Linked DNA regions of Homo sapiens: region 1 is linked to region 2. The links come from fine-mapping of genetic effects on gene expression. Tissue or cell type: subcutaneous fat. Region 2 holds a variant in brackets; the other region holds the start of a gene. All regions are shown on one strand. Distances are from middle to middle.

Region 1 (2,624 bases), 64 kb before region 2:
AGGAGTACAACTTTGTAACTTAACTTTAGCCTCTGATTGGTTGCAGGCTACTCCTTAATTTACAGAGGGTGTAAACCAAGTAACCAATGGGAAATCTCTAGCGGATATTTAAACTCCAGAAAATCCTGTAACCAGGGCTCTTGAGCCACTGGCTGGAGGCCATTCCCACTCTGTGGAGTGTACAGTCATTTCAATCTCTGCTTTCCTTGCTTCATTCTTTCCTTGCTTTCTTTGTGCGTTTTGTCCAATTCTTTGTTAAAAAAACCAAGAACCTGGATGACTTGTAGTCAAGACCCTCCATGGGTAACATTGGGACTATACAAAAGCCTTAGAAATCGTGGAATGATTTTTCAACCACATTATCTGATTCTAATGATGAACAGACCTGTAGACCGGTCTGAATCTTGGGATTTGCCTATCAAAAAACTCGGCTTTCCCTACTGCACAGGTCTTCAGAAGCGCATGTCTAACAAGGCTAATATTCCATCATCGGGATCAAATTGCTCACCGGATAGTAAAAAGACACTACAGAATTTCAGGGGTTCTCTGCCAATGAGAACTTCTGAATTATGTAGAACGGATCAGCTACTAAGCAGTGTTCTATCTTCCTACTCTTCTAATCGATTGTCATCCCTTAAAGCGCTGCTAATTCTAGAAAACAATCTATAACCTGTTAGAATCAGCGCAAGCTGGTGATGACTACAAGTCCCATGATGCAAAGTATGAGCACGGACCAATGTTGGTCGCAGTTCCTTCTGGGAATTGTAGTCTTCTCCTGTTTGGCAAACTAGGTATTGTAGCCTCCATTTCTCAGAAGTTCAGTTGGAAAACTAAAGATAGTGCAGAGAATGTCGATTTCCTGCCACAAGATTACATTTATCTTCGCTACCTGAGCGCCCAGCCGATCAACTCCAGTCGCTCCTCCGGTGGGCGGGCGCCCATGCCGTGACATCACTTCCGGCAGAGATGTGTGTGTGACGCTCTCTCTCTCTCTCTCTCGCTCTCGCTCTCTCCCTCGCTCGTTTTCTTTCTCTTTCTCTCTCTCTCTCTCTCTCTCTCTCTCTCTCTCTCTCTCTCTCTCTCTCTCTCTCTGTCTCTCGCTCTTGCCCTCTCTCTCTCTCTTTCTCTCTGTCTCTGTCTCTCTCTCTCTCTCTCTCTCTCTCTCTCTCTCTCTCTCCCTCCCTCCCTCCCTCCCTCCCTCTCTCTCTCTCTCTCTCCCCCCCCCCCCCCCCCCGCCCAGTTCGGCCCCTCCTTCCACACAGCAGGGATCTTGGGCCCGGGCAGAGACTGGCTGAGGCGGGGAGCAGCTGCTTTTGGGGCGGGGGTGTCACGTGAGGCTTCTCGCTGCTGAGGGAGGAGGCGAAAAGCTGCGGTTAAGGAGAGTCCGGTTTAACCGTCACCGGGAAGCGCGCTCGTTCGGGATCGCCGAGGGGGCTGAGGTAAAGACTGGGTCATTACCTCAGGACAGGCGGTCGCTGTCCCGGGTTCTCGTACGGGTGACACCTGCAACCTTGATGTCTGGCGGGCGGCAAGGGGCTCCGCGGGAGAGTGGAGAGGCGCCGCAGGAAGCCCAGCCACCTTCAGGCCACCGCCGACCCCACTGTGCGTCTGGGAGGCGCTGGGCGCGCACCGGTCAGCGGAGGCGGGAGAGTCTGTGATCCCAGGGAGCTGCGGGTCTCGCCGCCTGCAGTGCGGAAGACCCGTGACCGGCGCAGACCCCGGCCTTACCTTCCGAGGGTCGAACTGTGCCTGGTATTTGCCTCTTTCCTCCCGCCCACGGGGTTGCTCAGAGTCGGGCCACCTCACCTGAGGTTTTCCAGAGTGAGAATGAACTGAGCGTCCTGGGAGCAACTCCGCATCAGGGTAGAGGCGAAGACGCTCCTAATGAGCACAGCACGTTTTTTTGTTTGTTTGTTTGCTTGTTTTGTTTTTTTAACGCTTGGGTAGCGCTCACATCTTCGGACGTCAGTGGTTGTGTTGATATGTATTGATATGCGACCTCCCCCCAGCCAGGCGGCCTCAGGTAGTAGAGTGGCAAAGGCCAGGTAGATCCCTCGGACCTTGAGAAGGTTGAGATTTCAGACTTACTTGTTTTTGGGGAGGCCGTCAGGCGGAACCGAGGAGCGGTGAATCAGCAGCTAAAGTTTCATGAATCTTTGATAATGGGGAAATGTTGCCGAGAGCCACTTGAGTTAAAAATCTTTTTTTTTTTTTTTTTTGAGACGGAGTTTTCCTCTTGTAGCCCAGGCTGGAGTGCAATGGCACGATCTCGGCAAACTGCAACCTCCGCCTCCCGGGTTCAAGCGATTCTCCTGCCTCAGCCTCCCAAGTAGCTGGGATTATAGGCCTGCGCCACCATGCCCGGCTAATTTTTGTATTTTTAGTAGAGACGGGGTTTCACCATGTTGGCCAGGCTAGCCTCGAACTCCTGACCTCAGGCGATCCACCCGCTTCATCCTCCCAAAGTGCTGGGATTACAGGCGTGAGCCACAGCGCCCAGCCCAGAGTTAAAAATCTTATTTCAGCATCTTTCCAAGTCCAGGTGACTCATTTCTTACCTTTCCCACCAGTAGAGTTTCGTATGAAAAGTTGGGCAGTTATTGTTGTGTGTAGTCTTGTCATTT
Region 2 (2,762 bases):
GTACAATGCAAATTGATCACCACCTAAAAATCCTTCGTTGACTCCCCAGAGCTTTCATCCTAAATCGAAACTCCTACATGAGGATATCAAGACCTTTATCATCTGGCTTCTAGAACCTCCCAGCTTCATCTCTTCCTACTCGCCATTTTTCACCCAATCTTCCAGCCATTCTAGACATCAACATTCCTTTCCACACCTCCCTGCCTTAGCTACTGCTCACCACTTCCTCAGGCTAGTTCCTTCAGTCCTCAGCTTAGGCAACGGGTCATCCAGGAGGTCAGCTTAAGGCATGTGGGCAACATTAGAACAAGGATCACATTGCATTCCATTGTCTTTATGTGTCTGCCTCTTCCCCTACTAGACTTCTTGAGGGCAGAAACTGTTGATGTTCATTTCTGAAAACCTAATGCCCTACAGACAGATTGTTATATTTGTTGGAGAAGTTGAGAAAATATGATAATGGAGAACACTTCTTACTCTCTGCTAAGCACTACAAAGGTGTTACATGTATGGCTATATTTAATCTTCATACTGACCCTATGAAGATATTTTTAATGTTTGTTTTATAAATGAAGAAAATGAGGGCCAACAAAGTCAACAAAGGGTCAACAAAGTTAAATTATCTGAGGTCACCATGGCGGAAGCTGTAATGTACCTTCCAAATCCTCCTTCAAGAAAAGACAGGACAGACACAGTAGCTCACGCCTATAATCCCAGTAGTTTGGGAGGCCGAGGCGGATGGATCACCTGAAGTCAGGAGTTTGAGACCAGCCTGGCCAACATGGTGAAACCCCATCTCTACTAAAAATACCAAAATTAGCTGGGTGTGTGGGGGGCACCTGTAATCCTAGCTACTCGGGAGGCTGACGCAGGAAAATTGCTTGATCCTGGGAGGCGGAGGTTGCAGTGACATGGGATCACGCCATAGCATTCCAGCCTAGGCGACAAGAGCAAGACCTTGTCTCAAAAAAAAAAAAAAAGAAAGAAAGAAAGAGAAAAAGGCCTTACTGCCTATTCTGTGTGGACTGTTGTCCATGGTACTCTTTACCCAAGGCTATGTCCTTTGGGGCACATTCAGTGACTGACCCCTATGAGAGATTACCTCAACTGAGTTGTCAATTCAGAGTATCTCATGAGGTCAGCTCAGAGGCCTCCTTTGAGACACAACTTTTCCTCTATCCAATCTCATCCTTCTCTTTCTTTAAAAGACATCAATGCTAAAAGCACTCTTTTTTATAGCTTTTATTTTAAGTTCAGGGTACATGT[G/T]CAGGTTTGTTACATGGGTAAACATGTGTCATAGGGGTTTGTCGTACAGATTATATCATCACCCAGGTATTAAGCCTAGTACCCATTAGTTATTTTTCCTAATCCTCTCCCTCCTCCAACCCTCCACCCTTCAATAGTTTCCATTGTGTGTTGTTCCCCTCTCTGTGCCCATGTGTTCTCATCATTTAGCTCACACTTATAAATGAGAACGTGCAGTATTTAGTTTTCTGTTCCTGTGTTAGTTTGCTAAGGATAATGGCCTCCATCTTCATCCATGTCCCTGCAAAGGATGTAATCTCACTCTTTTTTATGGCTGCATAGTTTTCCATTGTATATATACCACATTTTCTTTATCATGTCTATCATTGATGGGCATTTAGGTTGATTCTATGTCTTTGCTATTGTGAATAGTGTTGCAATGAACACACACGTGCATGTATATTTATAACAGAATGATTTTTATTCCTTTGGGTATATACCCAGTAATGGGATTTCTAGGTCAAATGGTATTTCTGTCTTTAGGTCTTTGAGGAATTGCCACACTGTCTTCCACAGAGGTTGACCTAATTTACACTCCCACCAACAGTGAATAAGCATTCTTTTTTCTCCACAACCTCACCAGCATCTGCTATTTTTTGACTTTTTAATAGTCATTCTGTCTAGTGTGAGATGGTATCTCATTGTGGTTTTGATTTGCATTTCTCTAATGATCAGTGATGTTGAGCTGCTTTTTCATATGATTGTTGGCCACATGTATGTCTTCTTTTGAAAAGTGTCTGTTCATGTCCTTTTCCCACTTTTTTATGGAGTTTTTTTTTTTCCTTGTAAATTTAAGTTCCGTATAGATGCTGGATATTAGACCTTTGTCAGATGCATAGTTTGTGAAAATTTTCTCCCATCCTGTAGGTTGGTCTGTTTACTCTGTTGATAGTTTCTTTTACTGTGCAGAAGCTCTTTAGTTTAATTAGATCCAATTTGTCAATTTTTGCTGTTGTTGCAATTGCAAAAGCACTCCTTAACAAGCCTCATGCACTCTTCTCTCCATCTCAGACTCTGCTCCCCAGGGAATCCTGTGGCACTCACACAGCTAGAAAAACATAGGTACTGAGCACAGGCACTCAACAAAAAAAACAACAAATGTTTCATCTGTTTTTTTGTTTATTTGGTTGGTGCCATTTGTTTAGGGTACTTGCCCTCAAGAACCTCACAATCTAGTCTATTGGCCATGAAGGGGCAGGAAAATTATATTCTAAAGTGCATGGTTTTAAGATCAAGTCAATAAATGTAAGTTTAATTACTTCAAACAGGACACAAACGTTCTCTAAGTTTAAGCTTTGTTTTATTTAACAACGCTTTTAGAAACCCAAAATTTTAGCAATGATATTTTTTCTTCTTAAACACAAGCCTGATCCACATCTTATTTGTTATTTTTCTAAATACCTTTAAAGCAATTAAAAAGAAAAACATTTTAAGAGAAGAGAAGAAAAGAAAAGGCT

The links. PIP is the estimated chance that this variant, and not a neighbour inherited with it, causes the effect.
Region 1: LINC02235 starts here. The variant in region 2 is fine-mapped to the expression of LINC02235 in subcutaneous fat (FUSION, PIP 0.95).

The regions. Positions count from the first base shown.
Region 1 is chr8:81,840,937-81,843,560 of GRCh38, reverse strand. It overlaps LINC02235 (long intergenic non-protein coding RNA 2235), which reads right to left and starts at 942. Exons shown (of 8, transcript NR_170320.1): 1 at 890-942. SNX16 (sorting nexin 16) reads left to right here and starts at 1,376. Exons shown (of 8, transcript NM_152836.3): 1 at 1,376-1,439. RefSeq lists enhancers at 692-961, 1,393-1,442, 1,370-2,302 and a silencer at 1,773-1,822.
Region 2 is chr8:81,776,636-81,779,397 of GRCh38, reverse strand. No RefSeq gene overlaps it. Among named protein-coding and RNA genes, the nearest start is that of CHMP4C, 46 kb to the right of the region's middle. The variant G/T (reference allele first, on the strand shown) is at 1,267.